Regions from separate parts of the Homo sapiens genome. Here all the other regions are linked to region 1. Evidence: fine-mapped QTL for protein levels in blood plasma. Region 1 holds a variant in brackets. A gene starts in each other region. All regions are shown on their forward strands.

Region 1 (8,103 bases):
GCGTCAGCTGGGGCTGGTGTAGGGACACAGCTGGGCCTGGGGCAGTGATGACGTCATGAAGACATGAGGTCTAGGTTCAAAACTCCCAACGGGAGACAGGTTAGTCCTCATTTATGATAACAATGAATGAAAAAAATGTAGTCCAGGTGCTTCCATTAAGAAGATACTGATCTTATTACCTCTGTTTTGCAGATGAGAAAACAGACTTGAAGAGGTTAAGTGGGCCTGGCATGGTGGCTCACACCTGTAATCCCAGCACTTTGGGAGGCAGAGGTGGGTGGATCACTTGAGGTCAGGGGTTCAAGACCAGCCTGGACAACATGGTGAAACCCTGTCTCTACTAAAAATATAAAAATTAGCTGGACATGGGGGCCCACGCCTGTAATCCCAGCTACTGGGGAGGCTGAGGCAGGAGAATCGCTTGAACCCAGGAGGTGGAGGTTGCAGTCAGCCGAGATCGTGCCACTGCACTCCAACCTGGGAGACAGAGCGAGACTGTTTCATAAAAAAAGAAAGCGGTCAAGTGACATTCGTTACAGGATCCCGACTCCCAAGCCCAAGTCTTGACCACTGAGCTATGTCTTGGTTGGCAGTGGCGGTGGGTGGGAGGGTCCCCTTCCATGAAATCATAGGATCTGGAGAACACAAAAGGGAATGTGAGCTTGAATGTGTTTGGCCAGAAACTCAGAATGGCTCCTGTGGGCCCTGCTGGACCCACACTTCATACTGGGAGGCCAGCCCACAGTTTGCTCTGTGGTGGCTATAGAATCGGTTTTCCAGATCAATGTGGGTCTCCCCGATGAGGTCGTCAGAACCCACGAGGTCATGATCAAATACGGCGACCGTCAGCTCCGTCTCAGCTGGGAGAGAGATGCTTAGCTCCAGGATCCTGGCAAGGAGGGAGAGGGACTGAGGTCACTTCCATGCTCCAGGAGGTGGTCTGGGGAGGAGGCGGGTGTGTCAGCATCCCCTGTCCATTCCCTTGCCATTCCTAGGCCAGCTGCCACAAGGCCACAGGGCTGGATGCTCCTGCAGCTACCCCGTTTCCACCCCACAGGGCCCAGCCTCACTCTCCAAAGATGGGGTTGAGCTGCTTGGGGATGTAGCGTTCCTTGGTGTCCTGCCGCTCCCGGCCAGCGCTCACCACCACGTAAGGGTCTGCTTTGCCATTGGGGTCTGCAGGAGCCAGGTTGGTAGCCTAGGGGAACAGCATGGAGTGGAACTGAGAGAAATGTCATTATGATAACCCAAGGTTACCTTTGTAGGACCTAATTTCCCATTGGGTGAAAGCAGGAAGTTATCAAGGAGAGATCTCCCACTGTGAGGAGCTAATGGAGAGGTTGGACAAGATGACTTTTATTTTCAATTAGTTATGAAATAGTTAAGTCATACAAATAGGTATAACAAAAAGTGTAATGAAACAAAATATTTTGAAAGATGTATAACGGACTTACTATTCAACTCATAACTTTCTATATGGTTTGACTTATTTTTTAATTTATGAATTTTTTTAATAGAGATGAGGGTCTCACTATGTTGCCCAGGCTGGTCTCAAACTCCTGGGCCGGGCGCAGTGGCTCACACCTGTAATCCCAGCACTTTGGAAGGCCAAGGCAGGTGGATTATTTGCAGTGAGGAGTTTGAGACCAGCCTGGCCATCATGGAAAACCCCATCTCTACTAAAAATACAAAACTTAGCCAGGCGTGGTGGCGCACACCTGTAGTCCCAGCTACTCAGGAGGCTGAGGCAGGAGAATGGCGTGAACCCGGGAGGCGGAACTTGCAGTGAGCCGAGATTGCGCCACTGCACTCCAGCCTGGGCGACAGAGCGAGACTCCGTCTCAAAAAAAAAAAAAAAAAAAGAAAGAAAGAAAGAAAGAAATTACATCCTGTGTAGTTTTTTTCCCCCCCTTTTTATAGAGACAGGGGTCTCACACTACATTGCCAAGGCTGGTGTTGAACTCCCGGCCTCAAATGATTTTCCCACCTCAGCCTCCCAAAGTCCTGGGATTACACAGTGTGAGCCTCTGCACCTCCAGCCCTGTGTAGTTTCTTGACTGAAAGTTGTTGGGTGATTTTTTCAATTGTTGTTTGCCTAAAGAGGTCTTTCATTTTTTTCTCTCTTGAATGAGTGTTTCCTGGGACACACAATTCAAGGGTGATAGTTATTTTTCTCTCAGTGCTTTGAAGATATTATTCTATTTTTCTTCCAGCACTTTTGGTTGCTGTAGAGAAGTTGATGGGCTGACTGTCATTCCATTGTGGTAATCTGTACTTTCTCTATGATGATCTTTACATCTTTTTAATTTAGAGATTGGGTCTTGTTCTGTTGCCCAGGCTGGTCTCGAGAACTCCTGGCATCAAGCAGTCCTCCCACCTCAGCCTTCTGAGTAGCTGGGGTTACAGGCATGAGCCACTGTGCCAACTTGATTTTTTTTTGGTATTTATATTTTCCATAGCACTTATGCTTTCTTCTTTTTTTTTTTTTTTTTTTTCCCTGAGACAGAGTCTCGCTCTGTTGCCCAGGTTGGAATGCAATGGCATGATCTCGGCTCACTGCAACCTCTACCTCCCAGGTTCAAGGGATTCTCCTGCCTCAGCCTCCCGAGTAGCTGGGATTACAGGCACATGCCACCACACCTGGCTAATTTTTGTATTATTAGTAGAGAACGGATTTCACCATGCTGGCCAGGCTGGTCTCAAACTCCTGACCTCAGGTGATCCGCCTGGCTCAGCCTCCCAAAGTGCTGGGATTACAGGCGTGAGTTATCACGCCTGGCCACACTTATGCCTCTCTAACGCACTGAAACATTTACTTATTTTGTTAATGTTTGTTTCTCCTACTAGAATGCAGTCTTCATAAAGGCAAAGCTTTTTTTCTCCTTGTGATTACATATTAATTTTATTCTTTGAAATCTCTTTCTTCTCTTGTCCTGTCCAAATCCTACTTAGAGATACTCAGTCAAGCCTTAATTTCCTGTGCTGGCTCGGCTCAGTGGTTCATGGCTATAATCCTAGTACTTTGGGAGGCTAAGACAGGCAGGAGCTCAGGAGTTCGAGACCAGCTTGGGCAACATGGTGAAATCCTGTCTCTACTAAAAAATAGAAAAAATTAGCTGGGTGTGGTGGCATGCGCCTGTAGTCCCAGCTACTTGTGGGGGCTGAGGTGGGAGGATCGCTTGAGCCTGGGAGGTCAAGGCTGCAGGGAGCCGTGATCATGCCACTGCACCCCACCCTGGGCAACAGAGTGAGACCCTGTCTCAAAAAAAAAAAAACCCGCGAATTTACTGCAGAGACAGTAATAAAGGAGTATGGTAGTGGCATAAACATAGATCAGTAGAATAGAACTGAGAGTCCAGAAAGAAATCCACATATCTATGGTCAATTGATCTTCAACAAGGGTACCTAGACCATTCAATGGGAAAAGAACCATCTCTCCAACAGATGGAGCTGAGACAACTGGACAGTCACATACAAAAGTATGAGGTCAGACCCTCACCTCACACTAGATACAAAAACTAACCCCAAATGGATCACAGACTTAAACATGAGAGTCAAAACTCAAACTCACAGCAGAAAACAGGCAAAAGTCTTCATGACCTTGGATTTTGCAAAGGTTTCTTAGCTATAACCAAAAAGCACAGTCAATAAAAGAAATAAAAATAGACTTCATCAAAATTAAAATCTCTTTTGCTTTAAAGGACACTATCAATAGAGTGAAAAGACAACGTAGAAAGTGAGAAAATATTTGCAAGCCATATAAAAATCTAGTAGCCAGAATATACAAAGAACTCCTACAACTCAACAACAAAACAACAATCTAATTTTAAAACGGACAAAGGACTTTAGACATGTCTCCAAGATATACAAAGTTCTAAAAACCACATGAAGACTGTTCAGTGTCATTAGGAAACAAATCAAAACCACAATTAGATACCACTTTATACCCACTAAGATGATCTTAATTTTTTCTTTTTCTTTTTTTTTTTTTTTTGAGTCAGAGACTCGCTCTGTCACCCAGGCTGGAGCGCAGTGGCGCGGTCTCGGCTCACTGCAACCTCTG[A/C]CTCCAGGGTTCAAGCGATTCTCCTGCCTCAGCCTCCTGAGTAGCTGAGATTACAGGCGCCTGCCACCACGCCCGGCTAATTTTTTGTATTTTTAGTAGAGACTGGGTTTCACCATGTTGGCCAGGCTGGTCTCGAACTCCTGACCTCGTGATCCGCCCACCTCAGCCTCCCAAGGTGCTGGGATTACAAGCATGAGCCACTGCGCCTGGCCTGACATTCATTTTTTTAAAAGGACAATAAAGGCTAGGAGCAGTGGCTCATGCCTGTAATCCCTGCACTTTAGGAGGCCTAGGCGGGTGGATCACCTGAGGTCAGGAGTTTGAGACCAGCCTGGCCAACATGGCGAAACCCTGTCTCTACTAAAAATATAAAAATCAGCCAGGCGTGGTGGCGAGCGCCTGTAATTCCAGCTACTTGGGAGGCTGGGGCAGGAGAATCGCTTGAGCCCAGGAGGAAAGGGTTGCAGTGAGCCAAGATAGCACCACTACACTCCAGCCTGGGTGACAGAGCGAGACTCTGTCTCAAAAAAAAAAAAAAAAAAAAAGAAAATGTAAGTTATATTCTGGCACTCCTTTGCTCAGAACCTTCCTATGGCTTCCCATGTAATTCAGAATAAAGTGAATAACAAAACCCAACATGATCTGCTTTCTCTGCCCATCACTGCTCCATTTCCTCTGAAGCCTTAATTCCTAAAACCTGTTCATTTATCCTGCCTGCTACGGCCACAAGGGGCCCCTTGTTGTTTGTCACACACGAGTCATGGTTCTACCTGATGGCCTCTGTACCAGCTGTTCTGCCTGGAATGCTTTCTCCCTCAGGTAGCCACCTGGATAACTCCTTGGCCCCCTCCTAGTGTGTATTTAAGAGACAGGGTCTCTCTCTGTCACCCAGGCTGAACTGCAGTGGTGGCATCACAGCTCACTATAGCCTCAACCTCCCAAGCTCAAACAATCCTCCCATCTCAGCCTTCCTAGTAGCTGGGACTACAGGTGGAAGCCACTGTGCCCAACTCTAGTATTTGTTTAAATAACACTTTCTCAGCCGGGCATGGTGGCTCATTCCTGTAATCCAGCATTTTGTAGTTCGAGACCAGCCTGGGCAACATAGCAAGACCTCGTCTCTACCAAAAAAAAAAAAAAAGTCTTATTGAGGTCTATCAACTCCGACCATCCATTTGCAACCCACCCCCAGCACTCCCCCATCCCTTTATCCTGACATATTTTCTCCACAGCACTTATAATTTTCTAACATATAAATAAGATATATAACTTTTTTTTGTTTTGAGATGGAGTTTCGCTCTTGTCGCCCAGGCTGGAGTGCAGTGGTGTGGTCTCAGCTCACTGCAACCTCTGCCTCCTGGGTTAAAGCAATTCTCCTTCCTCAGCCTCTTGAGTAGCTGGGACTACAGGCATGTGCCACCAGGCCTGGCTAATTTTTGTATTTTTAGTAGAGACGGGTTTTGTATGTTTAGTAGAGACAGGAGTTCGGGCTGATCTCGAACTCCTGACCTCAGGTGATCTGCCCCCTCCTCAGACTCCCAAAGTGCTGGGATTACAGGCGTGAGCCACCATGCCCAGCCCGTAAGCTATATAATTTACTTATTGATTATGGTTATTGTTCATCTCTTTTCACTAGAATGTAAAGTTCACGAGGGCACTGATTTTCATCTGTTTTACTCACTGCTTTTTATCACCAGTACCCAGAACACTGCCTAGTACCTCATAAAAAATGCAAGAAAGGCCGGGCACGGTGGCTCACACCTCTAATCCCAGCACTTTGGGAGGCCAAGGCGGGCAGATCACCTGAGGTCGGGAGTTTGAGACCAGCCTGACCAACATGGAGAAACCCTGTCTCTACTAAAAATACAAAATTAGCTGGGTGTGGTGGTGCATGCCTGTAAACCCCAGCTTGAGGCAGGAGAATCGCTTGAACCCAGGAGGCGGAGGTTGCAGTGAGCCGAAATTGCGCCATTGCACTCCAGCCTGGGCAACAAGAGCGAAACTCCGTCTCAAAAAAAAAAAAAAAAGAAAAAAAAATGCAAGAAATACCTGTGGAATAAATGTTTGTGAGTGAAACTGGCCTAGAATTATACTTTCTCATGTCATTCTTCTCAGGTTTTGCATCAACATTATGCCACCCTCATGGAATTAACTGGGGTATTTCTTTTTATATTCTCTGAAATGGTTTGTGTAAGATTAAAATTGTTTCATCCATAACTGGTGGAAACTGCTGCTGAGACCATTTGGTCTGGAGTTTCTGACACAATTTCTTTTAATACTTATAGTACTATTCAGGTTTTCTGGCCAGGTATGGTGGCTCATGGCTGTAATCCCAGCACTTTGGGAAGCCGAGGTGGGTGGATCACTTGAGGCCAGGAGTTCAAGACCAGCCTGGCCAACATGGCAAAACCCTGTCTCTACTAAAAAATAGAAAAATCAGCCAGGCGTGGATGCAGGCACCTGTAATCCCAGCTACTCAGGTAGCTGAGGCAGGAGAATTGCTTGAACCTAGGAGGTGGAGGATGCAGTAAGCCAAGATTGCACCACTGCACTCCAGCCTGGGCGACAGAGCAAGACTATCTCAAAAATAAGTAAGTTTTCTTCCTTTTTTTCTGGCACACTGCATCCTCAGTGGCTCAAGCAATCCTCCCACCTCAGCCTCCTGAGTAGCTGGGACAACAAGCAGGAACCACCACGTCCAGGTAATTTTTATTTTGTTTTTATTTTTTATTTTTTTTTTTGAGACAGAGTCTAGCTCTGTCGCCCAGGTTGGAGTGCAGTGGCATGATCTCAGCTCACTGCAACTTCTGCCTCCCAGGTTCAAGCAATTCTCGTGCCTCAGCCTCCCTAGTAGCTGGGACTACGCACATGCCACCATGCCCTGCTAATTTCTGTATTTTTAGTAGAGCATTGGGGTCTTACCATGGTGGCCAGGCTGGTCTCAAACTCCTGACCTCAGGTAATCTGCCCACCTTGGCCTCCCAAAGTGCTGGGATTACAGAGGTGAGCCACTGCACCTGGCCTAACTTTTAAATTTTTTTGTAGAGATAGGGTCTCAGCCGGGCACAGTGGCTCATGCCCGTAATCCCAGCACTTTGGGGGGCCAAGGGGGGGGCGCGGATCATGAGGTCAAGAGTTCAAGACCAGCCTGACCAACATGGAGAAACCCTGTCTCTACTAAAAATACAAAAAATTAGCTGGATGTGGTGGCAGGCGCCTGTAATCCCAGCCACTCGGGAGGCTGAGGCAAGAGAATTGCTTGAACCCAGGAGGCGGAGGTTGCAGTGAGCCGAGACTGTGCCACAGCACTCCAGCTGGGGCAACAGAGTGAGACTGTGTCTAAAGAAGAAAAAAAAAGTGGACGTTGTAGTGAAGGGATTGGGAGGAGATTCGTGGATGTAATGAAGATACAGCTTAGACTACAGGCTGTATCTATTTTACAGGGGAGAGCCAAAGGATAAGACAGCTGGGAGGAGCTCTCCTGGGGTTAAAACAAATATCAAACACTAACCTCAGAAAGTATTCATTGGAAAGAGCCACCATTTGATTAGATTTATTTGTAGAGGATTTTATGCTCCCAGGATACTACTGCAAATGACAGAGCAATAAGTAGAGCTTAACTGGGTGTGGTCAGGGAAAAGAATGCAAGAGGGCCCTACCAGTACCACTGTCATCCTAGGGTGACAGTGGTATATCCAAAGCTGCACCTGCCAGAGTAGCAACATCAGTGATCTAACACAGGGGATGGGAAATAGACTTTGCTAAAATAATCCAGCCAGTCACTAAACAAATAAACAAGCAAATAACAAGAAACCTCAGTACCCAGAGTTGCTATCATATATTATCTAAATGCTGTTTCCAACAAAAAATTATGAGGCCTGCAAAGAAATAGAAAAATTATTTTTCCATCCACCCCCCAAAAAATGCCCGTGAGAGCAACACAATGTTGAACTTAACAGGAAAGTATGTATGTGTGTGTGTGTGTATGTATGTATGTATGTATGTATGTATCTATCTATCTATCTATCTATATATATATA
Region 2 (8,096 bases), not on the chromosome of region 1:
CAGGTCTCTCATTTCAAATATGGGAGAGCCAGAGCAATTTAGACATATTCCCAGTGTCAACAGTTAGTGCCCGAGACGCAGCTGCAGCTCAGGCCAGAACACTTGGCTCTATACCACCAGGATGCAAAGAACTTCACTGGCCAAAACTGAGTGTGTACACTTGCATCATCCAAAACCCAAAAACAACGTGCAGAAAAGAAACCTTACATAAAGCCTCACCCCAGCAAAACAAAACAAAAAGCAAACACTTCTAAAAACAGAGGGAATGATAAGAATTATCACAATTCTCACCAGAACAAATTCTCCTGGCTTATTGATTATATGAATAACACCCATAGAGGAAATCTCTTTTCCCCAATTTATCTGACCACTTATTTCTGTGTCTCTTCTTCAGTTGCTGTTTCCAATATAAGCCCAAATTACCCCAGCCTAAAACCCCCAGACCAGTCTCTGGATAAACCTCTGTGTAACAAGGCAGGACAGAGACCCTCCACAGAAGGAAGCCTGGTAGGGAGAGGGGAGGGATGCAGAAATGAAGTGAGCTTCTGCTTCACTGAGGCCCAAACCAGTGCATGGAAATCCATCACACAATAGCAAGTCCTCTGGAAACTTCTACATAGAAGGTTTCAGAACACTTACTCAGGTAAAGCCACCAAAACTCAATCATCAGCCAGAGAATGAGAGGTTCTTTGGACATTTTGACGGTTGACCGGACCCAGGAGTCTGTCTATCTATCCAAAGCCCAACCTCTTATATCCCAGTTAATGCTGACAGGGTGGGACTCTTTAGTTTCATTTCTCTTTTTGCCTCATAATCTTCCCTTTCTCCTGTCCTACATGGCTTCCCCCAATGGGCGATGCATGATGAAATGTGCTGAGCCCTTTTCTCCTGGTGACTAGTGTGTGTGTGGAGGGATGGCGTGGACATACTTGTGCTTCTTTGTCCATGTGTATAGTGGGTTTCCTATATGTGCACAAGCATCCATGCATGTGCTGGTGCAAATATGCCTGTATAACCTGTGCATGTGCCACAGTTGTCCCAACTGCTGTACAGCCTGTCACAAAGTGCAATTGACTCTCCATACTGGCAAGTGTTTACATGTAGATTCCTCATGGGGCCAAAGCATAGTTAGACTGAAAGTTGCCTCCATTCCCATTCTAGGTTCTCCCTCACCCTGTCCCCTGGCCTCCTTGCCCTAATAATGGAGAAAGAAAAGTGAGGACAGGCACAGTGGCTCACACCTGTAATCCTAGCACTTAGGGAGGCCGAGATGGGAGGATCGCTTGAGGCCAGGAGTTTGAGACCAGCCTGATCAACATGGCGAAACCCCATCTCAATTTTTTATTTAAAAAAAAGTTTAATAAAAAAATTAAATTTTTTTTTAAGTTTTAGGAAGACACTGAAGCCCAGAACTTCCTGATTCCAAAGCTTATGGTTAATCACTACATTGTCCTTTGACCTGTGACCGTTTGGGTAATGTATCCATATGATGAGGCCTACCTGTGGCTAGCTCCTACTTAGTACCAGGAAGAAAATATAAGAATTCACAAATGTTCTAGATTTTTAAAAATCCTTAATTGATTGTAAACAGCCAGCAAACCTCAAACATTCAACATTGCTTCTACTGAAGGTATCAGTGAAAAATCTAAATATCAGGTGAGGTTCTAGACCCAGAGAAGCCAGACTAACATGAGCAGGGATGAAAATAACGGGATTCAGAGTGAATCTTCCCACTGAATGCCCACAGAACCAAGGGATCCTTTCCCCATTCTATCCCAGGAAACTGGAGGATTTAATCTCTGGATAAACTAAGTGGTCCCAATAAAACATTTTCAGATATTTATAGTTTTGAGTGTTCCCCAACAAAACCACTCAACCCTCCTTCAATAAGTTCATCAGTGCATGAGCCTCAGCCATGCATGCAGAACTGTTAATGAGTCTTTAGTGTCCCTTTCAGATATGAACAGATAACCAGGGATCATCAGACATTTGAGGAAAGCATTTAACATAAAAAAGAGACAAAAATAACAGGGAGAGCTAAAGAGAACTTCAAAAACTTTTTAAAAAGCTAATATTTTCTCAGAAAGAAAGATTTTACATTCATGAAAAAGAACATAGACATTATAAAAATGTCCCGAATTTTATGGAAGTTTTGAAAAATAAAGTTAAGAAAATTTGTTAGAAATTATAACCATCTACAAAGTCAAAGGACTAGGATTGTTTCAGAACATTAAAAAAGAAAATAGAGGAGAGGAAATTACTAAAGAAATAATAAAGGAAAGACTCTCGTAACTAAAGGAGATGACTCTCAGTATTGAGCGGGTCAATCAAATGCTAAACTCAATGAATAAAAATATCCCCAAAAAGCAAGACATTATCATGTAATATGAGAACATCAGACATAAAGAAAAGATACGAAAAGACTCCAGAGAGAAAGAACAACATATTGCACTGAATGGATTTGGAAATAGAATGGCATTGTTGTTCCAAACAACAAAGCTAGAAAATAATGCACGAATGCCTTCAAAATTCAGAGGGAAGGCCGAGTGTGGTGGCTCACATCTGTAATCCCAGCATTTTAAGAGGCCAAAGTGGGTGGATCACTTGAGTCCAGGAGTTCCAGAATAGCCTGGGCAACATGGTAAAAACCTGTATCAGCCGGGCGTGGCGGCTCACGCCTGTAATCCCAGCACTTTGGGAGGCCAAGACGGGCAGATCATTTGAGGTCAGGAGTTCAAGACAAGTCCCAGCAACATGGCAAAACTGGTCGCTACTAAAAATACAAAAATTAGCTGGGTGTGGTGGTGCATGCCTGTAATCCTAGCTACTTGGGAGGCTGAGGCAGGAGAATCACTTGAACCCAGGAGGCAGATGTTGCAGTGAGCTGAGATCATGCTACTGCACTCCAGCCTGGGTGACAGAAGGAGACTCCATCAAAAAAAAAAAAAAAAAGAGGAAAAGAAAATCTATATCTGCCAAAAATACAAAAAATTGGCCGAGTGTGGTGATGCGCACCTGTGGTCCTAGCTACTCCAGAGGCTGAGGTGGGAGGATTGCTTGAGCCCGGGAGGTGAAGGTTGTAGTGAGCTGAGATTGTGCCACTGCACTCCAGCCTGGAAAACAGACAGAGAACCTGTGTCCAAAAAAAAAAAAAAAAATCCAGAGGAGAAATTTAATTTCAACCTAGAATCCTACTCGCAGACAATCTATTTCTCAAATGTAAGATCATAATAAAGGCCTTTTTGGACATAGATTCAAAATTTACTTACTATACTTCCTTTCCTAGAAGTTATGGAAGAGAAATCTGTAGCAAAACGGGAGAAATAACCAGGAAACAGAAAGTCATGGGGTCCAGAAAACATGACATCTAACTCCAGGGAAGAAAAATTTCACAAAGAAAACTGCAGAACAGACCTAGAGGGGAACTGTTTCACTGCATCACAAACCACCCCAAAACCTAGTGCCTGAACAATGTCAATGTACTTTTCATGATTCCCTGGGATGACAGTGTTCAGCTGGGTAGCTCTCACCCAGTGACAGTGGCTATCTCAAGACTAGATTGGACTATTTGTCCAAGATAACTTTCTCACTCACATGACTGATCATCCAAAATGACACTTCTAGCTGGACTTGTATGTCTAGCAAATTAATAGAATGACTAGAAGAGATAGGGGCTGGACTGACAACTGTCTCTCTCCACATGACCTTTCTACATGGAAGCTTGGGCTTCCTTACAGTATGGTGGTCTCAGAGTAGTTGGATTTTTTACATAGGATCTGGCTTTCTCAAAAATTAGCATTCCAACATGCTCAGGAATAATCCACAAAGGTTCTTATGACCTAGCCTTAGGTAACATTCAGTATCATTTTTACAGTATTTTATTGGTCAAAAGGCAAATTATAAGGCCATCCCAGAGAATTCAAGTGGAGGGAGCAATACAAGGATGTGAATGCGAGGAAGTGTGGTTCATTGGAGTGGTAGGGGAAGCATCTTTGGAGAATAATTACTTTAATAACCACCTCAGGCTGGGGCAGAAGAGCAGAGGAATAAGCCTTGGGGTGGTGGTAGTGAGTGTCACGAATAAGCTCATGTACTTAGGTAATTTGAAAATAACTTTGATAGGTGTTTGGCAGATATGATGGAATACTTGGGATGAATTTTTTTTTTTTTTTTTTTGAGACAGGGTCTTGCTCTGTTGCCCAGACCGGAGTGCACTGGTATGAACATGGCTTAGTAAAGCCTCAACCTCCAGGCTCAAGCAATCCTGTTGCCCCAGTCTCCCAAGTAGCTGGAACCACAGGTGTGCCTCCACACCCAGCTAATTTGTTTAAATTTTTGTAGAGGCAGGGTCTTGCCATGTTGCCCAGGCTGGTCTCAAACTCCTGGTCTCAAGTGATCCTCCCATCTCAGCCTCCCAAAGTGCTGGGATTATAGGCATGAGCCACTGCCCACAGCCATGGGATGAATTTTTGATGGATACTTGGGAAATTAAGAAAAAAACACAATGAAGGCTGGGTGCAGTGGCTCACGCCTGTAATCCCAGCACTTTGGGAGGCAGAGGCAGTTGGATCACTTGAGGTCAGGAGTTCCAGACCAGCCTGGCCAACATGGAGAAACCCCATCTCTACCAAAAATACAAAAAGTTGCTGAGTGCAGTGGCACATGCCTGTAATCCCAGTTACTTGGGAGGCTGAGGTGGGAGAATCCCTTGAACCAGGGAGGTGGTGGTTGCAGTGAGTCAAGATCATGCCACTGCACTCCAGCTGGGGTGACAGAGCGAGACTCCGTCTCAAAATAACAAACAAACAAACAAACAAACAAAAAATGAGATAATTATTACAACCAGGAAAGATAAAATTTTGTACGAGAAAAGAAATGTAATTATGGTGCATTTGCTAAGTGTGAAAGATATTAATAGTTACATGCTGGTAATAATGTAAAATCTGGCTACTGGCTTAATACACCATTTTTATTTTTATTTATTTATTTTTTTGACACAGGGTCTCACTCTGTCACCCAAGCTGGAGTGCAGTGGTGCGATCTTGGCTCACTGCATGGAATACTTCGGATAAATCTCTGCCTCCAGGGTGCAAGTGATTCATGCCTCAGCCTCCCAAGTAGCTGAGATTACAGTCATGCACCACAATGCCCGGCTAATTTTTGTATTTTTAGTAGAGATGGGATTTCACCATGTTGGCCAGGCTGGTCTTGAACTCCTGGCCTCAAGTGGTCTGCCTGCCTCAGCCTCCCAAAGTGCTGGGATTACAGAAATGAGCCACTGTGCCCCAACTTAACACATATTTTGATTTGACTACACTGGAAAAATTGGTAGAGAGGAAGCGGGGTGGGGGTGTAAGAAAGCCAAAGTCTATTCACCTTTACAGGGAGTCAACAAATAGTGTCTCAAATTGGTCAATCAGACAATACCAGCATAAACACGCTGTGAGTAATATGAAGGTAAAAACCAGAAGAACAAGCTCAAAAGAGTTTAATGCAAAAAAGTGGGAAAGAAATTCACTATTTTTTTAGTTATAAACCTTTTACAACTTGACTATTAAAAATGCATATATTGAGGCCGGGTATGGTGGCTCATGCCTGTAATCCCAGTACTTTGGGAGGCCGAGGTAGGCAGATCACTTGGGGCCAGGAGTTTGAGACCAGCCTGGCCAACATGGCAAAACCCTGTCTCTACTAAAAATACAAAAATTAGCTGGGTGTGGTGGTGTGAGCCTGTAATCCCAGCCACTCGGGAAACTGAGGCTGGAGGATCTCTTGAACCCGGGAGGCGGAGGTTGCAGTAAGCTGAGATCGCACCACTGCACTCCAGCCTGGGCAACAGAGGGAGATCATCTCAAAATAAATAAATAAGTAAATAATAAAATAAAATAAAATGGCTATATTGAGCATACCTAGCACCCACATCTTAATTTCTAATTCCATCCTCCCATAAAAAGAACCAGGGCTTCTTGGAGAAATGGCTGACTCTAGTACTGAGGTGAAAAACATACGGACTGAACCTGGAACATCCTGCAATGTCAGTAAGTAACAGCAAGAAAGTGCTTAAAAAAAAAAAAAAAAAAGGAAAATTAAAAAAGAATCCCACAATAATGAGATTATTTTAAAGAGCAAAGGAGATTATCAAAAGAGCTTCCAAAAAGCTTTGGCTCCACCTCAAAGCTGGAACAACCTGAGCAACAAAATAAATAGAAGAATACTGGATTATAATCCAAAGTATAAAATAAATATCTGAGTCCATACTGACAGAAGTAAATTATGACTCCATAAATAAGTAGGGGAGAATAGACAAATCTTCTCCCCAGAAGCATTATAAATAATTTATGTAGATACTCCCCACTCAAGGAGATAAAGCCTAACTCCCCACTCTTTCAGTGTGGGTTTGACCTACTGACTTCTTTCAAAAAAATACAATGGGGAGTGGCGGGGCAGGAGTAGCTTTACAGTAGAGAAAACTGACAAATACTACCTCAGGCGCCTGTTGATCAAGATCAACATCAACAATCAGTTGAGTTGATAATATGTACCCTTGACATGATGTAATATAAGGGTCACTTTATCTCTATGGACTTCCTCCTCAAAACCCATGACACTGACATGAAGAAAACAGGCAAAGTGAGGTGGTTCACACCTGTAATCCCAGCACTTTGGGAGGCTGAGGTGGGAGGATCACTTGAGCTCAGGAGTTCAAGACCAGCCTGGCCAACATAGTGAGACATTGTCTCTATTTTTGAAAGATAAATTAAATAAATAAATAAATAATAAACTTAATGTAGTATCCCAGGTGGGATCTTGGCACAGGTAAAGGCCATTAGCTAAAAAGTAAGAAAATATAAATAAAGTATGGATTTTAGATAATAATAATGTACCAATCCTGATTCATTTATATGATTTGATTTGATTGTTATTATTATTTTTTGAGACAGAGTCTTGCTCTGTTGCCCAGGCTGGAGTGCAGTGGCATGATCTCGGCTCACTGCAACTTCTGCCTCCTGGGTTCAAGCGATTCTTCTGCCTCAGCCTCCCAAGTAGCTGGGATTACAGGCACCTGCCACCACACCCGACGAATTGTTTGTATTTTAAGTAGAGACAGGGTTTCACCACATTGGCCAGGCTGGTCTTGAACTCCTGACCTCAAGCAATCCACCCACCTTGGCCTCTCAAAGTGCTAGGATTACAGGCATGAGCCACAGCGCCGGGCCGGTTCATTAATTTTAATAAATATATCACACTAATATAAGATGTTAATAATAGGGGAAACAGGTGTATGGTACATAAGAACTCTGTTGTATTATCTTTGATTTTTCTGCAAATCTGAAACTGCTTTAAAATAAAATTCATTTTTTAAAATGCACATATTCCTTTGTTTTAAGAGTGTAAATGTTAAAAGTAATCTAGTATCTGGAGGGGTCAAACACCGGAAAAAGAGACTAAACTTGGTTGTCTCTTCCTAAGTTAGATTCCATGATCAAGTTTCAGAATATTCACAAACATCCTAATATTTGATGCTCAGTTTTTATTAAAGCATATTATTGACAGAGTCCAAAGCAGTGCTGGATATTTCATGTTTTTGCCACCTTCATTCTCTGCATTTGGAGGTTTGCCTCTGGAGAACCGGACTTCCCTCATTCTCAGTCAATGCAGTTCAGGTGGCGTTGATTTCATTCATGGGCACAATTGGCTCAAGGATAGGCAATTGACTCAAATGAAGTCAAGGATACACAATCTTGAGATGTTTATTGTGACTTTTAACAGATAGAGACCCTCTCTATTTTCCTGTGGTCTGAGCTGTGAGGAAGTGAGCTGGAAGCTAATGTCAGCAGTCTTGCCACCAACGAGGAAAGCCTACCTCACAAGAGAACCAATCAAGCAGAAGGCAAGTGAGGAACTAAAGCAAGTCTAGGTCTATGACATGAGTGGAATCCCTGAAACAAGGCACATCAATGAGGCAATACATTTCCTTCTGGGCTTAAGTCAATTTGCATTGGGTTTGCAGTCATTTGGAATCTTAATTCTGAAAAAAACAAAAACAAAAAAACCCTCTGCAAAGCGAGAATTTGGCTGGATGATTTTAAAGTTTT
Region 3 (8,096 bases), not on the chromosome of region 1:
TAGAGACGGGTTTCACCATGTTAGCCAGGATGGTCAATTTCCTGACCTCATGATCCACCCGCCTTGGCCTCCCAAAGTGCTGGGATTACAGGCTTGAGCCACCGCACCTGGCCTCTTTTATTTTTTTTTATGCGGAGTCTCCCTCTGTCACCCAGGCTGGAGTGCAGTGGAGTAATCTCGACTCACTACAACCTCTGCCTCCCGGGTTCAGGTGATTCTCCTGCCTCAGCCTCCCGAGTAACTAAGATTACAAGGCATGTGCCACCACACCCGGCTCATTTTTGTATTTTTAGTAGAGACAGGGTTCCACCATGTTCGCCAGGCTGGTCTCGAACTCCTGACTTCAGGTGATCCATCCGCCTTGGCCTCCCAAAGTGCTGGGAATACAGGCATGAGCCATGGTGCCCGGCCTTTGGATAAACTCCATCTTAATGCAATATTTCAAAAAGGCAAAATGGGTGCAAAAAAAGTGCATGCTGAACTAAGTATGGAAATGTTAAAGAAAGGCAGGCTTGGCCGGGTGCGGTGGCCCATGCCTATAATCCCAGCATTTTGGGAGACCAATGTGGGAGGATCTCTTGAGCCCAGGAGTTGAAGACCAGCCTGGGCAACATGGGGAAACCCCCATCTCTATCAAAAATACAAAAATTAGCTGGGCATGGTGGCGCGCACTTGTGGTCACAGCTACTCAGGAGGCTGAGGAGGGAGGACCGCTTGAGTGCAGCAGTTAGAGGCTGTTGCACTTCAGCCTGGGTGACAGGGCAAGACCCTGCCTCTAAAAAAAGATTTAAAAAAAAAAAAAAAGGAAAGAAAGATACTTTCCTAAATCCTAAGGCTGGCCATGGTGGAAGCCCCCTACCCCCAGCCTCTCCCTGCCCCTTGGCAACTCCCCCGAAATCCCCACGGGTTTCTTGGCATTTTTCAGCAAACAGAGGGGAGGCAGGAGTGGGAGCGGGGATCCCCGAGCCTGTCCAGCCTGCCCCTGGGGGTTTCCTTGTTCCTGGGCATCCTGATCGCTGGGATATCTGCGGTGGCAGCTGCCTCCCCTGGCCTGCGCTCCTGTGTCTCTCTCTGTCTCTCTTCTCCATGTCTCTGTCTCTCTCTTTTTTTTTTTTTGAGATAGATTTTCGCTCTTATTGCCCAGACTAGAGTGCAATGATGCGATCTCGGCTCTCTGCAACCTCCACCTCCCGGGTTCAAGCAATTCCCCTGCCTCAGCCTCCGGAATACCTGGGATTACAGGCACGTGCCACCATGCCCAGCTAATTTTTGTATTTTTAGTAGAGACGGGGTTTCACCATGTTAGTCAGGCTGGTCTCGGACTCCTGACCTCAGGTGATCCACCCATATTGGCCTCCCAAAGTGCTGGGATTACAGGCGTGAGCCACCGCACCCAGTCTCCACGTCTCTGTCTCTATCTCTTGGTCTCCATCTGTCTGTCTTGCTGTTTTGTCTGTCTCCCTGTGTCTTTGTCTGTGTCTTCCTCCTCTCTTATCTCTGTCTCTCTGTGTTTCTTTTGCTCTGTCTCTGTCTCTCTCATGTCCCCATCTCCCATCTCTCTGTCTCTTTCTATCTCTGTCTTCTTTTTTTTTTTTTTTTGAGACGGAGTCTGGCTCTGTCGCCCGGGCTGGAGTGCAGTGGCGCCATCTCGGCTCACTGCAAGCTCCGCCTCCCGGGTTCACACCATTCTCCTGCCTCAGCCTCCTGAGTAGCTGGGACTACAGGCGCCTGCCACCACGCCCGGCTAATTTTTTTGCATTTTTAGTGGAGACGGGGTTTCACCATGTCAGCCAGGATGGTCTTGATCTCCTGACCTTGTGATCCGCCCGCCTCGGCCTCCCAGAGTGCTGGGATTACAGGTGTGAGCCCCCACGCTCAGCCTTTTTTTTTTTTTTTTTTTTTGACACAGAGTCTCACTCTATCTCCCAGGCTGGAGTGCAGTGGCGTGACCTCGGCTCACTGCAACCTCCTCTCACTGCAACCTCCGCCTCCCAGGTTTAAGCGATTCTCCCACCTCAGCGTCCCAAGTAGCTGGGATTACAGGTGCGCACCACAACGCCCAGCTAATTCTTGTATTTTTAGTAGAGACGGGGTTTCACCATATTGGCCAGGCTGGTCTCGAACTTCTGACCTTGTGACCCGCCCGCCTCAGCCTCCCAAAGTGCTGGGATTAGAGGCGTGAGCCACCACACCCGGCCCTCTGTCGTCTTCTCTTATCTCTCTGTCTCTCTTTCTGTGTCTGTCATCTCCCCGTATCTCTATTTCTGTCTTCCTGTCTTCTTTCTGTCTCTCTTTTGTCTCTCTTTCTCCATCTCTGTCATTGCCCCATCAGTCTTTTTGTTGTTGTTGTTGTTCTTTTTGAGATGGAGTCTCACTCTGTCACCCAGGCTGGAGTGCAGTGGTGTAATCTTGGTTCACTGCAACCTCTGCCTCCCAGGTTTAAGTGATTCTCCTTCCTCAGCCTCCAGAGTAGCTGGGATTACAGGTGCCTGCCACCACGCCCAGCTAATTTTTGTATTTTTAGTAGAGACAGGGTTTCACCATTTTGGTCAGGCTGGTCTCGAACTCCCAACCTCAGGTGATCCATCTGCCTTGGCCTCCCAAGGTGCTGGGATTACAGCCGTGAGCCACCGTGCCCCACCATCTCTCTATCTCTGTCTATCCTACTCTCTCATCTCTGTCTCTCTGTCTCTGTCTCTCATCTTCCCATCTGTGTCTCTCTTTCTCTGTCTTCCTCCCTTATCTCTGTCTCTGTGTCTCTCTCATTTCCCTATCTCTGTCTTCCTCTCTTATCTCTGTCCCTCTGTCTCTCTTCCTCTGTCTGTCTGCTCTCTGTGTTTCTCTTTCTGTTTCCATCATCTCCCTGTCTCTCTCTGTCTCTGTGTCCTCCTCCTCTCATCTCTGTCTCTGTCTCTCTCATTCCCCTGTCTCTCTCTGTCTCTATCATCTCCCTATCTATCTCTGTGTCCTCCTCCTCTCATCTCTGTCTCTCTCTGTGTTTCTGTCTCTGTCATCCCCCTTTCTCTGTCTCTGTCATCTCCCTGTCTCTCTATCTCTGTGTCCTCCTCCTCTCGTCTCTGTCTCTCTGCCTCTCTCATCTGTATCTCTCTCTGTCTCTGTCATCTCCCTGTCTCTGTCTCTCTCTATCTCTGTGTCCTCCTCTCATTTGTCTCTCTGCCTCTCTCATCTGTATCTCTGTCACTTTCTCTGTCATCTCCCTGTCTCTCTATCCCTCTATCTCTGTGTCCTCCTCTCATCTGTCTCTCTGCCTCTCTCATCTGTAGCTCTCTCTGTCTCTGTCATCTCCCTGTCTCTCTATCCCTCTATCTCTGTGTCCTCCTCTCATCTGTCTCTCTGACTCTCTCATCTTTGTCTCTGTCTCTGTCTCTGTCATCTCCCTGTCTATCTCCGTGTCCTCCTCCTCTCATCTCTGCCTTTCTCATCTCTGTGTCTCTCTCTGTGTTTCTGTCTCTGTCATGCCCCTTTCTCTGTCTGTCATCTCCCTGTCTCTATCTATCTCTGTGTCCTCCTCCTCTCATCTCTGTCTCTCTCATCTGTATCTCTCTCTGTCTCTGTCGTCTCCCTGTCTCTCTATCTCTTTGTCCTCTTCCTCTTGTCTTTCTCTCTGCCTCTCTCATCTGTGTCTCTCTCTGTCTCTGTCTCTGTCATCTCCCTGTCTCTGTCTCTCTCTCTCTGTGTCCTCCTCCTCTCGTCTCTTTCTCTCTGCCTCTTTCATCTGTGTCTCTGTGTCTCTCTGTCATCTCCCTGTCTATCTCTGTGTCCTCCTCCTCTCGTCTCTGTCTCTCTGCCTCTTTCATCTGTGTCTCTCTGTCTCTGTCTCTGTCATCTCCCTGTCTCTGTATCCCTCTATCTCTGTGTCCTCCTCTTCTTGTCTCTGTCTCTCTGCCTCTCTCATCTGTGTCTCTCTCTGTGTCTCTGTCTCTGTCATCTCCCTGTCTCTCTGTGTCTTCCTTCTGTCTTCTCTGTCTCTCTGCCTCTCTCCCCCATCTCTGCCTCTGTCTCCCTCCATGTCCCTGAGCCCCTGCCTGCCTGCCTGGGGTTTCCCCCGCTTCAGGGCAGCGGAAGGAAGGCCAGCAGGACATGCTGTGCTGGGAAAAGCCAGCAGGTCTCCACTTCTCCCTTTCACAGCCTCCTCCCCCGCCCCCACCCTCGGGGCCTTCCGAGCAGGGGTGGCCTGTGCTCCCCAGGGGGCTGGGGCTCCTCCACACCCTAATTCATCTCCCTAGCGGCCCCACGAGCCCCACCAGTGAGTCAGACCTGAAGGAAGTCGGGGAGGGGGCGGGCCTTGACCCTGGGCTGGGCTTTCCCCTGGGCAGGTCCCAAGTCCTCACCTCCCCTCTCAAGTCTCCCACGACGTTCCCACCCACTCCTGAGAGCAGAGCTGGCCGCAGCCATGACCCCGCAGCTTCTCCTGGCCCTTGTCCTCTGGGCCAGCTGCCCGCCCTGCAGTGGAAGGAAAGGTATGTGGGGCCCCTGGGGGACTGGGGGGCCCAGGCAGACGGACATGACACGAGGACTGGCCTCGGATCATGTCTGGGGTGGGAAATCACATCCTCCCGTGCCCAATGGTGGGATGGGGTTACCCTCCCATTGTACAGATGGAGGAACTGAGGCACAGAGAGGCAGAGTGCCACATTGGGGGTGGAAGGATGTCACCTTGTGGGTGATAGGGACTGGCAGTCACAGCTCAGAGGTATCCATAGAGCTACACAGACATAGCTACACAGACATGCGAATTTGAGTCACACTCATTCCTTTGGTTTCTTTTTGGTTTTGTTTTTTGAGACAGAGTCTCACTCTGTCGCCCAGGCTGGAGTACAGTGGCACCATCTCAGCTCACTGAAACCTCCATCTCCTGGGTTCAAGCGAGATTCTCCTCCCTCAGCCTCCCGAGTAGTTGGGATTACAGGTGCCCGCCACCATGCCCGGCTACTTTTTATATTTTTAGTAGAGATAGGGTTTTACCATGTTGGCCAGGGTGGTCTTGAACTCCTGACCTCAGGTGATCCACCCACCTCGGGCTCCCAAAGTGCTGGGATGACAGATGTGAGCCACCGCGCCCGGCCGACATTCATTCATTTTGCACTAGAGAACATCTCCATGTCCTTGAAGACAAAATGGTTACAGCAGGGCATGGTGGCTCATGCCTGTAATTCCAGCACTTTGGGAGGCCAGGGCGTGAGGATCGTGAGGCCAGGAATTCGAGACCAGCCTGGGCAACATAGTGAAACCGGACCCCACCAATCTGTACAAAAAATTAAAAAATTAGCTAGATGTGGTGGCACGTGCCTGTAGTCCCAGCTACTTGGGAGGCTGAGGTGGGAGGATAATTTGAGCCCAGGAATTGGAGGCTGCAGTGAGCTATGATTGTGCCACTGCATTCCAGCCTAGGTGACAGAGTGGGATACCTTGTCTCAAAATAATAATAATAATAATAATTTATAGGCTGGGTTTGGTGGCTCACGCCTGTAATTCCAGCACTTTGGGAGGCCAAGGCAGGTGGATCACCTGAGGTCAGGAGTTTGAGACCAGCCTGGCCAACATGGTGAAACTCCCTCTCTACTAAAAATACAAAAATTAGCCAAGCGTGGCAGTACATGCCTGTAATCCCAGCTACTCGGGAGGCTAAGAATCGCTTGAACCCGGGAGGCGGGGGTGGCAGTGAGCCGAGATCTCGCCACTGCACTCCAGCCTAGGCGACAGAGGGAGACTCCCTCTTTAAAAAAAAAAAACAATTACAAAAGAGAGAACACGGTAAAATCTCTCTCTCTTACCCGAGTTCCTCTCTGTAGATGCTTAAACCTCAGCTTCCCTATCTGGAAAATGGGCTAGTAGTCCTCACCTAGATGGATTGCAGTGGGGATAAAAGATGACAGATGACTTTTGTCCATGTACCTATTTATTCCGAAAGCCTTTATTAGGCACCTACCATGTACCTGGTGCTGGCTGGCAACGTGGCAGGAGCCCAGCGCACGGGAGGGCTATGACAATCTGGGGGTAAACCAGAAGCTCACTCTTTCTGTCTTCCTCCAGGGCCCCCAGCAGCTCTGACACTGCCCCGGGTGCAATGCCGAGCCTCTCGGTACCCGATCGCCGTGGATTGCTCCTGGACCCTGCCGCCTGCTCCAAACTCCACCAGCCCCGTGTCCTTCATTGCCACGTACAGGTCGGAGAGCCTGGAAGGGGGCCTCAGGGACACTGGACTTCCTGGAGAGCCCAGAACTCTGGCCCTGAGAGCCCTGGGGTCAGGAAAACTGGAGACCCCGACATCCTGAACCCCAGGCCTATGGAATTCTAGGGCGGCCCCGTCCAATAGAAATATACTTTCTGGGCCAGGCACAGTGGTGCATGCCTGTAATCCCAGCGCTTTGGGAGGCCGAGGTGGGCAGATTGCTTGAGGTCAGGAGTTTGAGACCAGCTTGGGCAACGTAGTGAGACACTGTCTCTACGAAAAATTTTAAAAATTGGTCAGGTGCAGTGGCTCATGCCTGTAATCCCAGCTACTCCGGAGGCTGAGGCAGGAGAATAGCTTGAACCCAGGAGGCGGAGGTTGCAGTGAGCCAAGATGGCACCATTGCACTCCAGCCTGGGCAACAGAGCAAGACTCCATCTCAAAAAAAAAAAAAAAAAACTACTTCCTGGGTTGGGCACAGTGGCACATGCCTGTAATCCCAGTACTTTGGGAGGCTGATGTGGGAGGATCACTTGAGGTCAGGAGTTTGAGTCCAGCTTGGGCAAAATAGTGAGACCCTGTCTCTAAAAACAATTTTTAAAATTAGCTGGGCATGGCCAGGCGCGGTGGCTCACGCCTGTAATCCCAGCACTTTGGGAGGCCGAGGTGGGCGGATCACAAGGTCAGGAGATGGAGACCACCCTGGCGAACACGGTGAAACCCTGTCTTTACTAAAAATGCAAAAATTTGCCAGGTGTGATGGCACGCGCCTGTAGTCCCAGCTACTCGGGAGGCTGAGGCAGGAGAATTGCTTGACCCAGGAGGTGGACGTTGCAGTGAGCCAATATTGCATCGCTGCACTGCATCCTGGTGATAGAGTGAGACCCCGTCTCAAAAAAAAAAAAAAAAAAAAAAAGAAAAGAAAAGAAAAGAAAAGAAAAGAAAAAATTTCGAAAAAGAAAAAAAAATTAGCTGGGCATGTTGGTACTTGCCTGTAGTCCCAGCTACTCTGGAGGCTGAGGTGGGAGGATCACTTGAGCCCAGGAGTTTGAGACCAGCCTGGGCAACATAGCAATATCCTGTCTGTACTTAAAATCAAAAAAATTAGCTGGATGTAATGGCACACATCTGTAGTCCCAGGTACTTGGGAGGCCGAGGTGGGAGGATCACTTGAGCCCAGAAGTTCAAGACCAGCCTGGGCAACATACTGAGACCCCCCCCCATCTGTAGAAAAAAAATTTAAAATTAGCCAAGAGTGGTGATGCGTGCCTGTAGTCCCAACCGCTCTGGAGGCTGAGACAGGGAAGATCCCTTGAGCCAGGAGTTCAAGGCTATAATGAGCTAGGATCATGCCACTGCACTCCAGCCTGGGCGCCAGAGGGAGACCCTGTCATGAATGAATGAATGAATGAAGGGATGAATTAATGAATGAATGAAGGAATGAATTAATGAATGAATGAAGGAATGAATTAATGAATGAATGAACGGATGAATGAATGAATGAATGGATGGATGAATGAATGAATGCTGACATCCCAGAAACCTTTAGAATCCCGGACCCTAGCATCTAGCTTGGGTTGTAATCCCCGACCTGAACCATCAGGGGCACCGTGATGTTGGGGCCCATGCCCTGCCCCCGGGGGGTGGCACGGCCACCACCAGGACCCCACCCCGGGATCCCCATCCGCTGCCCCCTCCTGTTCCTGCCTCTCCTTGGGGTCCCGGGTCAGGCCCGGCAGTAGGAGGTGCTGAGGCCACAGGCACTCCCTGAGGCGCTCAGCGAGCCCCACCCTGTGCAGGCTCGGCATGGCTGCCCGGGGCCACAGCTGGCCCTGCCTGCAGCAGACGCCAACGTCCACCAGCTGCACCATCACGGATGTCCAGCTGTTCTCCATGGCTCCCT
Region 4 (8,102 bases), not on the chromosome of region 1:
AGAATCAGAGATGAGCTGCCTTGAGCTTCCAACACGGTAGCTCGGCCTCAGGATGCTGCTGGTTACTATGGCAACTGCCTGCCGGAGCAGGACATAGTAGGGGAAGGTGGGCCAGAGACCCCAAAAATGTAGGAGCAGAGAGGGGTTCAGGATGGCTAGAGGTTGCTGACCCCGTTCCAGGCTGCCCTGCCCTCTGGGTGTCAGACAGCCCTTACCCGAAGAGAAGCGGAGGCCAGGGGTGGATGAGAGTGCTTTATTGGGCACCCAGCATGGGGGCTTGGCCCGAGGAGGACCATCGGGCCCCAAGACAATAAATAAACCATCATCTCCCTAAACAATAAATAAATATCCAAGAAATAAATAGCTGGCGAGGACCAGAGGGGCTTTCAGTTACTGGGTAGAGCCTGGGGCAGGGGGCTGGAAGAGCCCTCCCTTGTCCAAGGCTGATGATGCGAAGGCTGCCCTGATGCCAAGACTCCAGTCCTAAAGTTCTAAAGGGTGGGGGGCAGGGGGCTAAGAAGCCACCGATCAGGGCTGGGGGCTCAATGTTGGGAACCCCAAGGGCCAGACTGAGTGCCCAGCCTTGGACAGCAGCAGCAACTCCCGCACGGCCCGAGATAAGACGAGCTCCAAGGAGTGCAGCAGGCGGTAGGTGGAGAGGAGCTGGGGCCAGGACACCTGGGCCGGGCCCTGTAAGGCGCTGCCCAGTGCCCCTGGGAGCAGCCCCTTCCTCTCCTCCTCCTCCTCCTCCTCTTCCTCCTCCTCCTCCTCCGGGAGGTTGAATCCTGCAGCCAGCACCTGTGAGGAGAGGCCATGGGTCAGGGAGGGGCCAGGCCGAGAACCTGAGAGGAATCCTCATTCCCTATTCATGCCCAGCGGTTCCCAATGACATCAGTGACCACAAGGTCATGATTTCCCCGGACATTCCCTGCTTGATCTTCCATGATGTCACCTGCTAACGCGTCTCACCTGATCTTTCAGTTCGAGAAAATGGAAGTCAAGGAGCAAGAGGATGCTCACAGAGCTAGATCACCCCAAGGACTGCCCCGAGGCGTGGGGTTCAGGAAGTTTCTCTCTGCTGTGAAAGTTGCTTTTGGGTCGGGTCAGCAACAGGCAGAGGGTGACATAGCTCAGATTCCCTGCTGCTTGCCATTCCTCTCTCTCTCTCTTTCTTGGGAGCCCCGCTCTGTCGCCCAGGCTGGAGTGCAGTGGGGTGATCACGGCTCACTGCAACCTCTGTCTCCCCAGTTCAAGCAATTCTCCTACCTCAGCCTCCTGAGTAGCTGGGACTACAGACGCGCACCACCACGCCCGACTAATTTTTGTATTTTTAGTAGAGATGGGGTTTTACCATGTTGGCCAGGCTGGTCTCGAACTCCTGACCTCAAATGATCCACCCGCTTTGGCCTCCTAAAGTGCTGGGATTCCAGGCGTGAGCCACCACGCCCAGCCCTGCTGCTTGCATTTTCTATTCTCATTTCATTAAGTGTAAAATTCTGATTTCCCTTTGAAAGGTTCTGGAGGATCTGGGTGACATCAGAGAATCAGAGGGAGAAAGGAAACAGGAGGCAGACGCTGTGCTGGGCACTCAGGACACACCCCGAGTGACCTCACAGCCCAATGGCCTCCTGTTGAAGATAGAGCCCCAGGAGAATGTGAAGATTGAGGGGCAGCACCAGGGCCTGGTGTGGCTGTGTGTGCGCCTGCACACACGCACACACTCACACACATACTCATTCTCACAACGCACCCACACTCATTCCCATACAGTCACATTCACACAAAACACATTCATGGCTGGGCACAGTGGCTCACGCCTGTAATCCCAGCACTTTGGGAAGCCGAGGCGGGCAGAGCGCGAGGTCAGGAGTCTGAGACCAGCCTGGCCAACATGGTGAAACTAAAAATACAAAAAAATTAGCCAGGCATGATGGTGCACGCCTGTAGTCCTAGCTACTCAGGAGGCTGAGGCAGGAGAATTGCTTGAACCTGGGAGGCAGATGTTACAGTGAGCTGAGATCGCACCGCTGCACTCCAGCCTGGGCGACAGAGTGAGACTTAGTCTCAGAAAAAAAAAAAAATCGTTCACGTACCCACATACTCTCACACTCACACTCATCCTCACACACTGACATACCTATACCCAAACTCTCACCCACACACCTCACTTTCACACTCACAACACTCACATTCACACACCCACCCACACACTCCCACACTCTTACACTCACAGTCCCATACACTCACAGTCTCACACTCATGGACCTACACACACACGGTCACGCTCACACTCATACAGACCCACACACACTCACAGTCACACCCACACACTCACACACTCACAGCCACACACTTTCACACTCAGACCCACACACTCACAGTCACACTCACACACGGACGCACATACACACAGTCATGCTCACACTCATACAGCCCCCCCACACACACACTCACAGTCACACCCACACACTCTCACAGTCAGGTACACTCACACAGACCCACACACTCACTCTCACACTCACGGACCCACACCCTCACACACAGTCATGCTCACACTCATACAGACCCACATGCACTCACAGTCACTCCCACACACTCTCACACTCACAGACCCACACTCACACACTCTCACAGTCACACTGTCACACTCATGGACCCACACAGTCACACTCACTCTCCCACACTTACGGACCCACACAGTCACTCTCACACTCATGAACCCACACACTCATGGACACTCAGTCACACTCACACTCTCACACTCACACACACTCAGAGCATGGGATCACTGAATGAGCCAGCGAGTCTTCTTTCCCACGTGGTCTGGGGTGGTGGAGGGTGGCCGGGCTCTACCTGGAAGCGGAGGTGCCGCTGCAGATCGCGGAGGTCCAGCCTCATGGCCCACAGCTGCATCCTCTCCATGTTGGTCCAGCGGCCCTGGGTCCCCAGCCCTCCCAGCAGGGCATGGAAGGGCTGAAGCGTGGTGGAGATGAAGCAGAGACGCTCCGGGTCCTGAAGGGGAGGGAGATGGTCAGGAAAGGTCCACAGGCCAAGGATGGCCATATCACACCCACCCCCTCCCTATCCGGGTCTCCTTCCCATTCCACGCTCCAGCCTCCAGTCCATCCCTGTAGCTCTTCCCCCACCTCAGCCCAGCTGTGTCCCCATTCCTTCCATCTCCACTGTCTGGGACATTTGTCCCATCTCCTTTTCCAGCCTCCCTTTCACTCCTATGCCAATGATCTTCTCTAACCCACCCCCTCTCAGTCCCTGAAGCACTCTCCATCCACAGCCCTGTTCCCTTCCCTCCTCCACCATCCCATCATACCTCCTGCCCATGTGTTTCCATCCCATCTTCAGCCTCATTCCCATTCCTAACCCCAACTCCATCCTTCCTCCATGTGCCCAGACTCACTCTTTCCATCTTTCCATCCCATCTCCAACCTCATTCCTAACCCTATTCCATTCCCTTCCCCACCAGCAATCCCCATCCCTTCTCCATCCCATGCTTAACGTTCACCCTCATCATCACCTTCTCATCTCTAACTATCCGCATTCTCACCCCCAGTGCCACCTCCACCCACCCTCCATGCTGCTGTGATCTGTCTCCAGCCTCATTCCAGTCCCATGCCTGCCGCGTTCCATGCCTAGCTCCACTCTTACCTCTTCCCAACCCCACTTCCTTATTCCAGCTTCATCTTTATTGTTGGTTTGTTTTGAGATGGAGTCTCGCTCTGTTGCCCAGGCTGGAGTGCAGTGGCGCGATCTCATCTCACTGCAACCTCCACCTCCTGGGTTCAAGTAATTCTCCTGCCTCAGCCTCCCGAGTAGCTGGGATTACAGGCGCACAGCACCATACCCGGCTAATTTGGTATTTTTAGTAGAGGTGGGGTTTCTTCATGTTGGTCAGGCTGGTCTCGAACTCCTGACCTCAGGTGATCCACCCACATCAGCCTCCCACAGTGCTGGGATTACAGTCGTGAGCCACTGCGCTCAGCTAATTTTTGTATTTTTTAGTAGAGATGGGGTTTCGCCATGTTGGCCAGGCTGGTCTTGAACTCTTGACCTCAGGTGATCCGTGCTCCTCAGCCTCCCAACGTGCTGGGATTACAGGCATGAGCCACCACGCCTGGCAGTTTATTTATTTTTCTGAGACAGGGTTTCCCTCTGTTCTCCATCCTGGAGTCCAGGATCATAACTCACTGCAGCCTCCAACTCCTGAGCTCAAGCAATCCTCCCATGTCAGCCTCCTGAGTAGCTGGGACCAAAGGTGTACACCACCATGCCTGGCTAACTCTTAAATTTTTTTTTGTAGAGACAAAGTTTCACTATGTTGCCCAGACTGGTCTTGAACTCCTGGCCTCAAGCAGTCCTTCCACCTGGGCCTCCCAAAGTGCTGGGTTTATAGGTGTAAGTCACCATGCCTGTCTTTCATCTCTATGTCCAATGACATATTCAGCCTTATCCAGGTTCTATCCCCAATGCATCTCCAGCTCAATCTCCAGCCTCATCTTGCACCCTGGCCCCAGCCTATCACAAGCTTCCCGCCCCACTCCACCAGCCCTCACTCACAGAGAGGCGGCGCCAGGCCTGGAAGGTCAGGGAAACATCAGGGAGCTGCTCTCCCAGGGGCAGGAGGTACAGGTTCACTCCTGGCAGGTGAGATTCCGCCTGGGGGGCAAGGTCTGTTAGTGGGGGCCAGAAGGGATTGGGGGTCTGCCCATCTCCAGCGCCAGCTGCATTAGGGGGACTTACAAAGCGGTGGGCCTGGCCCCGAACCTCGGAGAGCAGCTTCCTGGCGAGATGCAGGCTGACTGTGAACTCCCTCCGCAGCTCCTGCAGGCTCAGCTGGGGCCTCCCTGGGGGCCTTGGGAATCCCCAGACACCAGCTTGAACCAGGAGCAAGGGAAGCAGCAACAGGCTGAGCCCTGGAGAGATGGGAAGAGGGTGGCAAGACAGGGAGAGAGCTTGAGAAGGAAGGGAACATGCCTTTTCTGAGCCTGTGCTAGCTGTGAGCACGGTGCAGGCACTTTGACCAGCATCATTCCTCTGCCTCCTCAAAACCACAATGGAGGCTGGGTGCGGTGACTCACACCTGTAATCCCAACAATTTAGGAGACCGAGGCGGGCGGATCACCTGAGGCCAGGAGTTCAAGACCAGCCTGGCCAACATGGCGAAACCCTGTCTCTACTAAAAATACAAAAATTAGTTGGGCGTGGTGGTGCATGCCTGTAATCCCAGCTACTCAGGAGGTTGAGGCAGGAGAATCGCTTGAACCTGGGAGGCAGAGGCTGCAGTGAGCTAACACCACTGTGCTCCAGCCTGGGCGACAGAGCCAGACTCTGTCTCAAAAAAACAAAACAAAACAAAACAAAACAAAACCCCACGATGCAGCCAGCACGGCCCCCATATGGCATCTCCGCATGGTGTGCCCACTTTTGCAAAAAGACCAGAAGCCTGATCCTTTTTTTTTTTTTTTGAAACAGAGTTCTGTTCTATCACCCAGCCTGGAGTGTAGTGGTGTGATCACAGCTCACTGTAGCCTTGAACTCCTAGGCTCAAGTGATCCTCTCGCCTCAGCCTCCCAAGTAGCTGGGATCACAGGGACACACCACTGTGCCTAACTGTTTCTATTTTTTTGTAGAGACAGGGTCTCACTATGTTGCCCAGGCTGGTCTTGAACTCCTGGCCTCAAGAGATCTTCCCGCCTCAGCCTCCCAAATTGCTGGGATCACAGGCATGAGCCACTGTGCCGGGACAGAGACTGGATTTTGACCCCCATAAACTCCCTTGGCCAAATGCCTTTTTCAGTGAGCAACCTGCACAACCACGTGTGGCAGCCTCAGTGCTATTGTTCTCCCCAATTTGCAGGTGAGGCTCAGTGAGGTTGACTTGCCCAAGGTCAAATAGCCAGAAGGTGGGAAGCCAGGACTGGATTCCAGGTTTTTCCAAATGCAGAGCCCATGGGTTTTCCCCAGAGAATGCAGAGGGAGGCAGCCATCTGCCCCAGGAGTGGGCACACCATGTTCTGGCAAGGATTCTTTGGGCTCAGCCAAGCGGCTCTGATGGCTTGAACTGGCCATGAGGTCCCCAGGGATGGGCTGGCAATGCCAGAGGCTCTATTCCAGGGAGTCAAAAGGACAGGTTTGTCCAGTTTCCACCACGGCAGGTGGATCCTAGCAGGGTAACCTGCCTGGGGCGAATCCACAGTATGGGAGCTTTTTTTTTTTTAAGACAGATTCTCACTCTGTCACCCAGGCTGCAGTGCAGTGGCGCGATCTCGACTCACTGCAACCTTCACCTCCCAGGTTAAAGCAATTCTCCTGCCTCAGCCTCCTGAGTAGCCACCACGCCTGGCTAATTTTTATTATATTTAGTAGAGAGGGGTTTTGCCGTGTTGGCCAGGCTGGTCTCCAACTCCTGACCTCAGGTGATCCGCCTGCCTTGGCCTCCCAAAGTGCTGGGATTACAGACATCAGCCACTGCGCCCAGCCCAGAATGGCTGAATTCCGAGTGTGCTTCCTGACCTGTGTTTTCCTGGAAAGAGGGGCAGCGGATGGGCGCTCTAGGAAGAGGGCAGCATTCATCAATTTCCCCCTCAGGGAGAGGAAATCTAGCAAGCACAAGAGTTACACAATTCTCCTCGAAACACAAACCAAAACTGGCCCGAAGTCCATCCTGCTCTCCCTTCTCTCCCTGCCTCTTCCCTGTCCTCTCTCAATCTCTAACCCCTGGGCTCTGCTCTTCGAAATGTCCCCTGATAAAGGTGAAGGGGAGCTTCTAGGGACATCTACCTCCCTCGTGGGCTTGCAGATGTGGTGGGCGATGCCTAACGTAAGATCTCTGGCATTCAGACTCCCTGGTTTTGGGGCCACTCGGACCCTCTGACATCCTGGAGACTTAAGGCAGAGTGGGGTTCTTCCTAGCTCAATGTTGGGGACAGGGTGGGTGCCCCCAGGCCCTGGTGGATCAAGCCCAACCGTAAGTGAGCTGTGCCATCTCCAACCTGACCTCTGGAGACCCCAGACCCCCTCCTTACCCTCTGCAGCTGATCCTGGGTCATTGGCTCTGGCCTTTGAAGGCTCTGTCTCCATCCTCCAGCCTTTGGTCCCTACCTGCCCTACGTGGCATGTTACCTTCTCCACTGCCTACTGCTCTGGTTCTAGCCCCTGAGTTCTGCAGCCACCAGCCGCAGATTGGACCTCTTTCCAACATCAAACTAAAGACCTTTGACCCAGTGAGGCTGCTGACATCTTGGTCCCAGTGCTCCACTTGTGCCAGCACCTCGTTCTGCTCTTCCTCCAGCCGGCCCCATTCTCAGTCTTAGCCAAGCTGTTTGGCTTCTGCTTATTCACTCCAAACTCTTCATTTATCTGCCTAGACCTGGTCCTTGTCAAATTGCTGGTCCAACCCTCCCCATTCCCACTAGCCAAGGCCTCCTTCTCATCCTCTGCCCAGCCCTGGGTCAGACCACCACCCCACTGCCCCAGGCCCCCACCCAGTCATGCCAGCCTCCCTTCCCATGCAGCAGCCAGCCGAATCCTCAGTCTTGGCCAAGTTGCTGCTCTCAGCTCTCGACCCCCCATCTGCACCAGCCAAGCTCGTCCATTCTCTGCCCAAACTCAACCAAGCCCCCCACCCCTGGCTTCAAACTCACGCCAGCCAAGGTCGCCTGCCGTCTGGCCCATGGCGGGGCCCAGCCTCTTTGGTCAGCCATCTCCTGGGTAGGGGGGGTCTTATACTGGGGGCTGTGCCCGGTTTCACTTTCCGTCCTGCTTGTACTTTCAGCTTTGTGTTCACTCATTCTTCCCTCTCGCCACCCCTTGCTAAAATGGGGAAATGTAATTTCCCTTCCCGGAGGGGGTGGGAGGTATGATGGGGGGTGACGGGAAGCTGGGGTTTCGGGACATCCAAGCTCCAGACTCACTGCTAAGCTCCCACGTCCAGCCCTGTCCTCAATGTCCCATGCTTGGGTGAGCCATCCAGCCCTATTCACTGGTTGATCCCAGAGTCCCAAACCCCCTCCTGATTCTCGGCTCTGCCACCATCATCCTAGGGTCTACTGTCCTTCCAAAGATGGATAGCCAGGTAAGGGGATTGC

Alleles and levels. Positions count from the first base shown, and alleles are read on the strand shown. Strength reflects both the effect of a copy and how common the allele is.
As copies of A replace C in region 1, the plasma level of the protein whose gene starts at base 725 in region 2 goes down (strong association).
For the plasma level of the protein whose gene starts at base 4,387 in region 3, C is the high allele of the variant in region 1 and A is the other (strong association).
For the plasma level of the protein whose gene starts at base 7,712 in region 4, C is the high allele of the variant in region 1 and A is the other (strong association).

What was found. PIP is the posterior inclusion probability: the model's chance that the variant is causal. The UK Biobank Pharma Proteomics Project read protein levels with antibody pairs (Olink). The fine-mapping took linkage between variants from a reference panel, not from the people measured, so its PIPs are less certain.
Region 2: TIMD4 starts here. The variant in region 1 is fine-mapped to the plasma level of the TIMD4 protein (UK Biobank, PIP above 0.99).
Region 3: it holds the start of EBI3, and the variant in region 1 is fine-mapped to the plasma level of the EBI3 protein (UK Biobank, PIP above 0.99).
Region 4: it holds the start of IL27, and the variant in region 1 is fine-mapped to the plasma level of the IL27 protein (UK Biobank, PIP above 0.99).

Annotation. Positions count from the first base shown.
Region 1 is chr20:35,564,030-35,572,132 of GRCh38, forward strand. It overlaps the pseudogene FER1L4. Among named protein-coding and RNA genes, the nearest start is that of ERGIC3, 26 kb to the left of the region's middle. The variant A/C (reference allele first, on the strand shown) is at 4,064.
Region 2 is chr5:156,962,502-156,970,597 of GRCh38, forward strand. TIMD4 (T cell immunoglobulin and mucin domain containing 4) reads right to left here and starts at 725. Exons shown (of 9, transcript NM_138379.3): 1 at 640-725. The coding sequence starts at 697.
Region 3 is chr19:4,225,137-4,233,232 of GRCh38, forward strand. It overlaps EBI3 (Epstein-Barr virus induced 3), which reads left to right and starts at 4,387. Exons shown (of 5, transcript NM_005755.3): 1 at 4,387-4,481; 2 at 6,055-6,187; 3 at 7,993-8,096. The coding sequence starts at 4,415. RefSeq lists a silencer at 1,372-1,572 and enhancers at 4,607-4,696, 5,660-6,161.
Region 4 is chr16:28,499,123-28,507,224 of GRCh38, forward strand. IL27 (interleukin 27) reads right to left here and starts at 7,712. Exons shown (of 5, transcript NM_145659.3): 1 at 7,659-7,712; 2 at 4,756-4,928; 3 at 4,573-4,671; 4 at 2,854-3,012; 5 at 240-798. The coding sequence starts at 7,689. The coding sequence ends at 529. RefSeq lists enhancers at 141-641, 642-1,142.